Linked DNA regions of Homo sapiens. The protein of the gene in region 2 interacts with the protein of the main gene of each other region in a pairwise test. Each region holds a gene or a part of one and is shown on either strand. Other genes may lie near its edges.

The links. Proteins that work in one complex are often made in the same cells at the same time.
Region 1: the proteins of FOXD4L1 (region 2) and HMG20A interact in binary tests that used the Homo sapiens proteins (3 or more experiments, as listed by UniProt).
Region 3: the proteins of FOXD4L1 (region 2) and PRDM6 interact in binary tests that used the Homo sapiens proteins (3 or more experiments, as listed by UniProt).

Annotation. Positions count from the first base shown.
Region 1 is NC_000015.10:77,427,388-77,430,917, forward strand, and holds part of HMG20A (high mobility group protein 20A), read left to right. Parts: intron 1-3,530. UniProt on the Homo sapiens protein: Plays a role in neuronal differentiation as chromatin-associated protein. Acts as inhibitor of HMG20B. Overcomes the repressive effects of the neuronal silencer REST and induces the activation of neuronal-specific genes.
Region 2 is NC_000002.12:113,497,156-113,501,572, forward strand, and holds FOXD4L1 (forkhead box protein D4-like 1), read left to right. Parts: upstream 1-1,509; 5' UTR 1,510-2,101; coding exon 2,102-3,328; 3' UTR 3,329-3,995; downstream 3,996-4,417.
Region 3 is NC_000005.10:123,095,741-123,099,270, forward strand, and holds part of PRDM6 (putative histone-lysine N-methyltransferase PRDM6), read left to right. Parts: intron 1-3,486; exon of another isoform or gene 3,487-3,530. UniProt on the Homo sapiens protein: Putative histone methyltransferase that acts as a transcriptional repressor of smooth muscle gene expression.

The sequences.
Region 1 (3,530 bases), on a different chromosome or scaffold from region 2:
AATGGTTCTACAAGCATGGGTAGTTCTAGATATGATACCTACATTTCCCTAAAAGATTGTACTGATTTTTAATGATAACAGCAATGTATAAGGATGTTGTTTTCACCACGATTTTACCAGCAAAAATATTTGGCTAGTTGAACACACATAAAATTATTGTTCTCTTTGCTTATAATCTGATAAGTGTTTCCATACCTTGGAACCTGGATCTGTTGGAACATGAAGGAATTCAGGACCCTTATACATGTTACCCCATATGGCTTCTTTAAAGGATATGGATTTTTGAGGATCCTAGAAATCAAAATTCTCTAATTTTATTCAGCTCAAAAAAAAATTTTATTCAGTGCTGCTGTCCTTATTTTCTGAATAATATTCAGATTCAGACCACACTGAGCCATAATTCCAATTCCCACTTGACTAACATTTATGTAGTATTGTGCTAGGCACTACATGTTATCTTAATTCTAATAATTTGGCATTTTTCCATATGAGAAAAATAAGATTTAGAAAGATTAGATTACTTGCCCAAAATCACTTAACCAGTAAGTGGTAGAGACAGGATTTGAATGCAGATCCTCTAAGGCCAGTGTTTATTCTCATACTGCATGATCCCTCAGTATCACTACTAAAATTTACTGGAGGATAATGGAAAGTGGAAAATCTGAACTGGAACTTGGGACAATCAAGCACTGACTTACCTGTGTTCATAATGAAGCATTTAGCAGAGATGTTGTTTGTTGTTTTGTTTTGTTTTTACTGGGGAGGCTATAGTACATAAACAGAGCGAAAGATCTTGGTATGGTTAAACCCACATTTTCAAGGCCTTCTGTGTTCTCCCTGATGATCAGGTACCTACTACCCCAAAATCTGTGATGGTAACAAAGAAGGAGGAAGGCAGCTGTAGAAAAGCAACGGCCTTTGGGTATACCCAGTAAGATTTATGTGATTGTAGAAAGAGCAGGCAAATGGCTTGGCCTTCAGAGAATCCCACAAAGTAAAGTAACCTTTTAAAATAGTAACTTAAAGTCTGACATAAGATTCTTAACAGGATATTCATCACAAGATAAGATATTCAAAGCATAGCGTGTAAGACATTCAAAGCATATCAGCAAAAAAGGAGAGATTCCTTCATTTTTATTGAAGTATGGTATACTCACAAAACAAATTTAATATCAGGAATATAAAACAAGAGATACGATGTTCCAATTCTGGCTTTAGTCGGATATTATAAAATTTAATCCCAATTTATAGATAAGGCAATTCAAGGCTCGAGATTACACACCAAATAAGTGGACTCTAGGCTGGGTGTGGTGGCTTCTGTAATCCCAACACTTTGGGAAGCCAAGGCAGAAGGATCGCCTTAGCTCAGGAGTTTGGGACCGGCTTGGGTAACATAGTGAGATGCTGTCTCTACAAAAAAATAAAAAATAGCCAGACATGGTGGTATATACACATGTGGTCATAGCTACTCAGGAGGCTGAGGCCAGAGGATCGCATAAGCCCAGGAGTTCAAGGCTGTGAGCTGTTATCGAGCCACTGCACTCCAACCTGGGCTACAGAGCAAGACTCTGTCTCAAAAAAAAAAAAAAAGGAGGGGGGAGCCTCTAGAACATAGGCCTTTAATCTGTGTGGTTGTTTTGCAATTTATATGTATAATTTTTAAATAATATGTTGGCCGGGCACAGTGGTTTGTATCTATAATCTCAACACTTTGGGAGGCTGAGACAGGAGGATTGCTTGAGGCCAGGAGTTTGAGACTAACACAGGCAACATAGCAAGACCCCATCTCTACTAAACAAAATAATAATAATTTAATATGGTGGGTTTTTTTGTTTTTTTTGTTTTTTTGAGACGGAGTCTTGCTCTGTCTCCCAGGCTGGAGTGCAGTGGCGCTAGTGAGCTCATGCAATTCTCCTGCCTCAGCCTCCCAAGTAGCTGGGATTACTAGCGCTTGCCTGCTTCAAAAGAAATGATTTCCAGCACCCCATTTTTTCTTTTCCAGCCTCAAAATTCATATCTCCTTTTTTTCCCCCATGTCCACATGTCCTTCATTCCTATACTTCATAGCTTTAATTCCTGTTCTCTTGATACAAACCTTCATGTTTGTTGCTTGATGGCATCATAATTATCATAACTTTTTGGCTTAATAACAGTAGCAGTTATATCAACAAATAATAAAATGTTCATACTTTTGAGCCAATAATTCCACATATAGAACTTCATTCTGAGAAAATACTTTAAATAAGAAAAATAGTTAAAGGCACAAAATGTTAATAGCACTGATATCTATACTGTCTAAAACTTGAAACCTTCTAAATATTCAACAATATAATAATGCCTAAGCAAATTATTGCCTATCTACTCAGTGGGCTGTAAGACATTCATTTTTCACAATAGCGTCTTTAAGAATACATTGAAAGATGTTGTAAGAATGTTTTTGCAAAAATGAAAAGGAGAAACATCAGAAGAAAAAGTAGAAAAACTAATGTGATTGGTGTCTATTTCTGAAGCATTTATATTTTCTATATAATAATAATTTACATTTACTGACCACTTACTTGTGTCAGGAACAATACTCAAGCAACATTATAGAAGCAACAATTTGTAGTTATTGAAAACTGGTGTTCTAGAATCAAATCTGAGCTTCATCACTTACTAATATGTGGTCTTGAAAAGGAAATGGAGGATAACTATGTCTACATTAAATTATTAAATCTATATAAAGTATTTGGCACATACAAAACCTACAATAAGAATGTTTTTGTTATCAGACATTTTATAAATATGTCTCATTTAATCTTCACATCCTCACAGTAACCTCATTAGATAGTGTTAACGTTCATTTTACATGAAAGAAAATTGAAACTTCAAATGTTTAAATACTCTAGGTTAAATAACTTGCCGAATCACTTAACTAATAAGCAGTAGAGTTTTTATTCAGAGCCCAAGCTATGGTTTCCACTTATGACTCTGAGAGATGAGGTTGCTGCAGACTAATGCTTTTGCTAAGAACAGGAAAGATGAGAATTAAAAAGAAAAGTGAAGGCATCAGAGACCTGCTGAGGCATCCAGGACTTAAGAAACCACAACCATAGAACCAAAGGAGCTTCAGAGAAGTGGGCTGATGTTCCATGCTTCTCTTTTTTCCTAGGAATTTGCTAATTCTTAGAGCATGACAAGATGCTGTGAAACTTAGCAGAGGGTTTCTTCTAAAAGCAGAGAAGCTGTTAGTTTTATGGGGCGGAGCAGACAAAACTTGGATTTTAGAGATCTCCAGGTAGCTAGTTCTTGGGTCAAGATCCCTAGAGAAGGACAGTACCCAGAAACTTTTTTAAAACTTGTTTTCCCCTCACAGTGTTTGCTAGGCAGAGTCTAGAACTGTAAGAAAGTTAATTTGTATTGCTTTAAGCCAATAGCTTTGGATAACTTGTGACAGCAACAATATGAAACTATTACAGAGACATGAGGAAATGATGAAGAAGTCTAACATACATATGACTGGAGGAGAGAAAGTTAGAAGCAGTAATATT
Region 2 (4,417 bases):
TATTTTGCCCTTGCAGTTGGCGTTTGATTTCTCACTGAACATTCGTTGTCATAATTATAGACACTATGTGACTATCAAGGGCATAATATTCTTTCATGCTGCATTTTTATTAGATGGCACCTCAAAGTTTTCCCAAGTAGGTGGGTTTTAAATTATGAATATATACCGTGGCATAGTATCTTACTTAGTATTTTAATAAGATCCTTATTTATATAACAAATATTTTTTTTATTCCTCTGTAGTGCTACTTTAGTCTCTGAGCTAATTTTCATGAAGCCAATCTAAAAATCGTGTTACTTCTAAGGATGTGGAGCGAGTGAGATGAACAGTTGTGCTGTCATATTGCCCCTCCCCAGTGCAGACAGTGAATGAGGACCCACTGATTTAAAGGCAACACTGCAGCCCCTTCTTGCCTCATTGAAGTCCCAAGTTTTATTACAGTAAAAGCACTTAATGTTGACATTTCTGAAAGAATGAAGAGGCCGGGCGCGGTGGCTCACGCCTGTAATCCCAGCACTTTGGGAGGCTGAGGCAAGCGGATCATGAGGTCAGGACATCGAGACCATCCTGGCTAACACGGTGAAACCCCGTCTCTACTAAAAATACAAAAAAATTAGCCGGGCGTAGTGGCGGGCGCCTGTGGTCCCAGCTACTCGGGAGGCTGAGGCGGGAGAATGGCGTGAACCCGGGAGGCGGAGCTTGCAGTGGTCCGAGATTGTGTCACTGCACTCCAGCCTGGGCGACAGAGCGACAACGTCTCAAAAAAAAAAAAAAAAAAAAAAAGGAAAAAAAGAATGAAGAGCCAGAGCCAGGCATAGTGGCACGCCTGTAGTCCCACCTACTCAGGAGGCTGAGGCGGGAGGATCACTTGAGCCCAGGAATTCAAAGCCAGCCTGTGCAACATAGACCCTGTCTCTAAAAATGAATTGGTTATAAAGGATGAAGAAAGGAAGGAGGAAAGGGAGAGAGAGAAGCCCTTATAGAGTGGGTGCATTTCTTGTATGTGGGGCCACTTTGTAAGAACAGGATTTTTCAAACTGGGCCCATACTGGTATGTGTGAAATCAATTTAGTTGGTTATGGCCATTTTTTTTTAAAAGGAAATATCAGTGATCACTATAGTGTAAGTATATTGTTTCGTGAAAGCCATCTTAGTTATGTATTATGTCTGTATGTGTAAGATTGTGATATAAAATGTATTTCTGTGGTTAAATATTCAAAGAAATTGGAGAACCATTGCTACAAGGGGACAGAGGACTCCGTGTGAGCTCTCCTGCCTTCCCTGAATAAACTTACACAATTTAGTGCTGGGACATTTGAACCTTTTCTGAAAATTTGAGTCAGGGGAGAGCATCTTGGGGAGGTGGGAAGGAAGGTAGAAGGAGCAAAGCAACACCCCCCTGAAGCCTGGGAATATTGTCAGAACCTTAAATATAATTCAGCTCACCATTCTGGGTAAGGACAGACTCTACCAATGAAAATGGGTGATTACCAGCTGTGAAACACAAAAACATACTTTTACGGTTACACATTCCTTTACAAACAACCGTGTACATTTCAGCCTCCTGCCCCACCATTTCTTTTCTCCAGGAGGGAAGGCTGCATGTCGAGATGGTCGTAGAATGTTGAGTATCCTACTTTCCTACCTCGCTTTTATTTGCGCGGGTTTAAATGCGCCTTAACAGAACCCGTGCAAAGGCTTGCCTACTTGTCTGGCTGCACCGGATGAGTAGAGCATCTTCCTTGGTGGCAGGTGGGTGCGAGGAGGAGGGGGCTGGGCTTTTCTCCGGACGGTGTTTGCCCAGAAGACCATCATCCCTGGACTACGTTAGGAGGAAGTGGCACCGCTCCGAGGTAGGGGAAGAAGGGTTATAAAGGGGGGAGTCCACCACACATGGTCTTGAAGAAGCTTTTATAAAAGGCAAAGGCATCTTTGCCGGACGTTGTTGCAAAGGAGTAGAAACAAGCAGAGGAAAACATCCCAAAGGGTAACCACTAGCGTTCCTGCTTCTTGCAACATTCATCCCAGGCTTCCAGCTCAGCCCGCCCCGGGCCAGGTGATCGGCCGCCACATCCCCTGCGACTGAAGCACCTGCTCCGCCATGAACCTGCCAAGAGCTGAGCGCCCTCGCTCCACACCGCAGCGCAGCCTCCGGGACTCCGATGGGGAAGACGGTAAAATCGATGTCCTGGGAGAGGAGGAAGATGAAGACGAGGTGGAAGACGAGGAGGAGGAGGCGAGCCAGAAGTTCCTAGAGCAGTCGCTCCAGCCGGGGCTGCAGGTGGCCCGGTGGGGCGGGGTTGCGCTTCCCCGAGAGCACATCGAGGGCGGCGGCCCGAGCGACCCCTCAGAGTTTGGCACCGAGTTCAGGGCACCGCCAAGGTCTGCGGCGGCCTCTGAAGATGCCCGGCAGCCGGCAAAGCCCCCCTACTCGTACATCGCGCTCATCACCATGGCCATCCTGCAAAGCCCGCACAAGCGCCTCACGCTCAGCGGCATCTGCGCCTTCATTAGTGGCCGCTTCCCCTACTACCGCCGCAAGTTCCCCGCCTGGCAGAACAGCATCCGCCACAACCTCTCGCTGAACGACTGCTTCGTCAAGATCCCCCGCGAGCCGGGCCACCCAGGCAAGGGCACCTACTGGAGCCTGGACCCCGCCTCCCAGGACATGTTCGACAATGGCAGCTTTCTCCGGCGTAGGAAGCGTTTCAAGCGCCACCAACTGACCCCGGGAGCCCACCTGCCCCACCCCTTCCCTCTACCTGCTGCACACGCCGCCCTGCACAACCCCCGCCCAGGCCCTCTGCTTGGGGCCCCTGCCCTGCCGCAGCCAGTCCCGGGGGCCTACCCCAACACCGCCCCCGGGAGACGCCCTTACGCTCTGCTGCACCCGCATCCTCCTCGCTACCTACTGCTCTCGGCCCCCGCCTATGCCGGGGCACCGAAGAAAGCAGAAGGCGCGGACCTGGCGACCCCCGGCACCCTTCCCGTGCTGCAGCCCTCACTTGGTCCTCAGCCTTGGGAGGAGGGCAAGGGTCTGGCGTCGCCACCGGGAGGCGGATGCATCTCTTTCAGCATTGAGAGTATCATGCAAGGGGTCAGGGGAGCGGGTACAGGGGCTGCGCAGAGTTTGTCCCCGACCGCGTGGAGCTACTGCCCCCTGCTCCAGCGACCGTCAAGCCTGTCGGACAATTTTGCAGCAACAGCAGCAGCATCAGGAGGAGGACTGCGCCAACGGCTGCGCTCCCACCAAGGGCGCGGTGCTGGGCGGGCACCTGTCGGCCGCGTCGGCGCTGCTGCGGTATCAGGCGGTGGCAGAGGGCTCTAGGCTGACATCGCTGGCTGCCCCTTTGGGCGGAGAGGGGACCTCACCAGTTTTTTTAGTATCGCCCACGCCCAGTTCCCTGGCCAAGTCCGCAGGGCCCTCCTAGAGCCAGGTGGGAGTGGGGAGCGATCCGCAGCTGCTCACTCCACCTTGCGCGGCCCATACTGGGCGTGTGCATCTGAATCCTGCTGGAGAGCAAACACGAACTTCTGTTCCCTGCAAAATGGTTAGAAAGAAACAGCTGGATTACGTTCCTCTAAAAACCACCTGAACGTAACCTTCGCAGGGCGTCAAGTCATCTTTTCTTGCCTTCGGCTGTGGCTTCTGTGGCTTTCCGGATTTGCACATTTCCTGGGGTACTATGAACGTGAGTGGGGTATTTTGTTCTGGCATTAGAAGAAAAACAAGCAAGCAAACAAAAACACAGCCTCCGATGCCAAACATGTTCCCCCTTCTTCACTTCCTTGGAACTGGAAGTGTTATTCCTAAGTCTAGTGCAAAATGCTTCTACTCTCTGTGTCTTCCTGATAGGGATGTTTAATGTAAGTAGGATATTAATTTCAGAACATTGATTTCTTATCTGTGTGTCTGACGTGCCATCTTTAATGTTAAAATTAAGGTGTTAAAATTAAGCCTAGTTATATAGACGAAATAAAATGCTAAGTCACTACACTACATCGTTATTTTCTATTACGTCTCATTCTTCCCTTTCTAAATGGAACTTTTTAAAACCTACATTATTTTCCCTCAAACAATTTATTTTCACAATTCATATTTATTATAGATAGCAGAAGTAATCCATTTTAATATGGCCTTTAAAAATTCCAAATATTTGAGGTTGAAAATGTCCTGGCTTTTAAAATAGGAAATTTACTATTTATGAGACTTCTAAAAGAAAAGAATAGGAGGGCATGTAAATATATTCTCCATTTATTTTTCCTCACCCCCCAACAAGCTGGAAAACCGTTTGAGATCAATTTGGAATGTAGTGGCCAACATGTACTCAGGGAAAATAAAAGGCTATAAATGTACATATATATATATATATATATATACATTTTTTAAGCACTAGAATTTTCAAAACTTATTTCT
Region 3 (3,530 bases), on a different chromosome or scaffold from region 2:
AGGCGTCGGGCAGGTACTGGGGAGTGAAGATGTGATGTAGCTCTCACTCCCCACGCGCCTACACATGACTGTTGGCCTCTCCACACACCAAAAGCCCGGAAGCGTTTTATATTTCACCTTTCCTAGAACGAGAAATGAAATTCCAGAAAAGAAAACCATGGCCTGCTTTGCCGCCTTTACCTTAAAATAGATATATTGTAAAGATCTATTGCACTTTAAAGACATTGAAACAACACAGAAGGATAGGAAATGAAGAGTGAAAGTCTGCTCTTAACTGCACTTGGCCTGGCCTTCTGATGCCAGGAGGCGAACAAGTCTGTAACCTAATGACAGCACCTTCCTTTACTCAGAGACGCTTAGACAGGAGCATTGACAGATTTACTCAAGATAGAAGAGTATTTATGAATAACAATTATGAACTTGTACAAAAACTCTTCCCCTGATTTTAAGAGAAAGTATGAACATTTACTTGCTTCCTTGTTAGGAACCTAAGTAGTTGTATTATGTATTGCTTGGCTTGGAATGCTCTGTGTGTGTATATATAATATAATGACATATATTATATACATTTATACATAGTTTGGTCCTCTCATATAGCCTGCTTCTCTTTCAAACCTTTTCATGTAGGTGTTTATACTCTGCTAGAATGTTTGTCTTCTTAAGCATATTTGTCAATCCCAAGAAATGTTACTTGTTTTTAATATCCTCAAGCTACCCTGAGACTCAGACATAAGTTAGAACCCAAATGTTTCAGCTGGGGGATTTTGTGTATTAAAAAATAACATTGGAATATAACATGTATCTTGATGGCAGTTGGTCAACTTTTCTGGCAGAATATTTTGATATAGCATGAAGTGGTTCACAAATTAAGAAGACCCCTGTTGGGTGGACTAATTAAAGTTGATTGACTTTGTCTAGCCTGCTGTGGACCTAACACACAGATAGTCTTCTAGATATTGGGAGAGCCTCAGTTTTTCACTTTTAATAGTAGCATAATGCTACTATTAAGTTTTTCAACTCTTTATGGAGACAAATGAAACAATAAGTTGAAGACGGCTTTAGAGGACTTCTTGGAGAAAGGCCTTAGCCACAGTTTTATTATCATGCATTACAAATATTAGAAGTGTGCTTTTTGTCTATGGAGGTAGTGGCTGGAGTTGGTACCTATGCTGATGTCGTTGATGGGATGACACGTGTGGAGAAGCATGTTGGAAGTTGACTGTCTCTGGCACAGGCTGCTAGGGAATGAAAACTAAACACTCTTCTGACCATTTGCATCATTGAGTCAAGCAGAAAAAAAAATCAGTTAAGTAACTCCCTGGAGTGACTTATTTCTATTTCCATGGGCATATTGCCTTTGCTTATTGTCATTTGCTTTTAGCTATTTTTGCAAAGGTGCTGAAAGGCTGTCTCTGAAGTCAGACAGTAACATTCAAAATTATAGACATTATCTATGTATTTTCCTATCCAATCTCTTACTTTAATGTCCGAAAACACAAGAGTGTGGGAAAGAGAGAAACCTCTATAACTCAATCATGCTACAGCAATTTTCATGGCCCCCAAAGTTACTTCAGTGAAATATTTCAATTCAATTGAGTCATGAGTTTGAATGTTAAATTTCCCCAGCTTTCATTAGTCTTTTAAAAATCTCTGGGTTTAGAGGCCTTGCAGTCAGGCAGCCTTGACTGTGAATCCTTTCTCTGCCACTTTCTAGCTTCTGGTTCTTGGTGGAGTAGTAGTGCTTGGGAATTGCTTTATCTGCAGAATGGGAATCATGATACTTAGATAATATGCTGGTTTTTGGTTCTAGACAGGTGTCTGACACATGGTATGCACTGTAATTGTGTTTATTGTCTTTCATGTAATTCCCAAAATGTCTTGAAGTTTTTATTTTCACAATCAATAAGCTTGAGAGGGTGTGTGAAGTGTGTGTGTTTCAGAGGAGTTGACATATGGATAAGTGTGAGAATACTCCCATCCAGGCCCTGGGGTCAAAAGCAGAGTCTGGGAGAATTTTAACAATAGTTTGTGTTGCTGGCAGAGGAAGGACAGAAGAGGGCCTTTGTGCAAGGGAGGCCCAGCGGCATGGACACTTCTCTGCTTTCCGAAACAAGTTGTTGCTTTTCACTTCAGAGGTCTGGGGACATTTCTGAGAAGCTTGCAGCCCTCATTCTTCCAGCTCTCTTGGGAGGAGTAGAGGAGTAGCTGCTGACTGAGGCAAAGGTTTGGCTGGCTAGAGCCCCCTCCAGTGAGACAGGAGGCTTACATAGTCAGCCCTCCTTTGCTGTGAAGCAAATGGCAAATCGAGGGCTCCCTTACCATGCTGGGTTGCGATTAGCTGTTCCTGACACAAACGTTTCATACAGACTCACAAGTTTCTTGGGCATTTCGGTCATTTCAGCGCAGATAGGGCACATCCAGGGTGATCCAACAGGCCTGGCTGCGGCCAAGGCTGGCGGCGGCAGGTACCCGGGTGCCCCGAGGGCCACCCGCCGCCCCGCTCTGGCGCATCCATCAGTGGCCAGCTTTCACCGTGTCTGCCAGGCGGGACTCGCCAGGTGTCAGGCTCAGTGCCATAAGCCTGACACTTGCGCGGGGTCGCCGTGGCTCCTCAGGGAAGCTGGGCCAAGGAGGCTGGGTCGCGCCGGCGGGCGCCGAGGCCACCTTCTCGGGGCAGGCCATCCGCGCTGAGGCGCAGACACGGCGGCTCCTCCAGGCCCATTAATAACCCGGAGGGCGCTGCGATCCGACAGCGCAGTCGCCACAGGCTCTATTTCCCGTGGCCGCCTGCCTCCTTCCAGCCCAGTTCGAGTGGAGGGATACTGGGCGCCCACTACCGCCCGGCCCGGAGGGTGGGGGTCCCTCTCGCGCAGGCTGCTTTGGAGAGTGTCGGAGAGAGACAGCTTTATCTACAGCTTCACCCATTGTATAGCACAACAGAATCGCATTTAGCCTGGAGAACAGCCGTCGGGGCAGGAGTTGGTGCCTTCTCTAACAATTAGGCTGATCGTTAAATTTGCTATTCCTTTCTTCCGGCGTCTAGGGAGAGCGTGCACACCAAACCCTCCAGAACAGCACCCCGGTCCCCCACCCCGCCCCACCTGTCCCCGCCCTGCTTCAGTGCCTGGAGGGAGAACTGACTGGTCGCTTGAGGGACCCCATTTCGGGCGCGCCCTTGGAGTCCTGGGGCTGCGGCTCCTGCTCTACCGGGCTGCAGGCTTGCTCTGCCCCGTCCCGTGGCGTTTGGGAGGCAGTCGAGGAAGCCTCCGAGTCTCTGGGTCGAAGGAAGTGCGAATGGCACCCGCGATAGACTGGCCGTCTCCCCCACCCCGCCCCGTCTGGTGATTTTAAATCGTCTCCTGTGTAATTGTAAAAAGAGGAAAGCTGAATACCCAGACGACCAGTATAGAATCTCTTCGAGACAGCAGATTGGGCAAGAGACGGGCTTTTTTTCGCAATACAAGGATAAACACATCCTGAAACTCCAGATAGAAACCTCAGGAATGGGCGAGAGGGTCAGAAGGAACGAG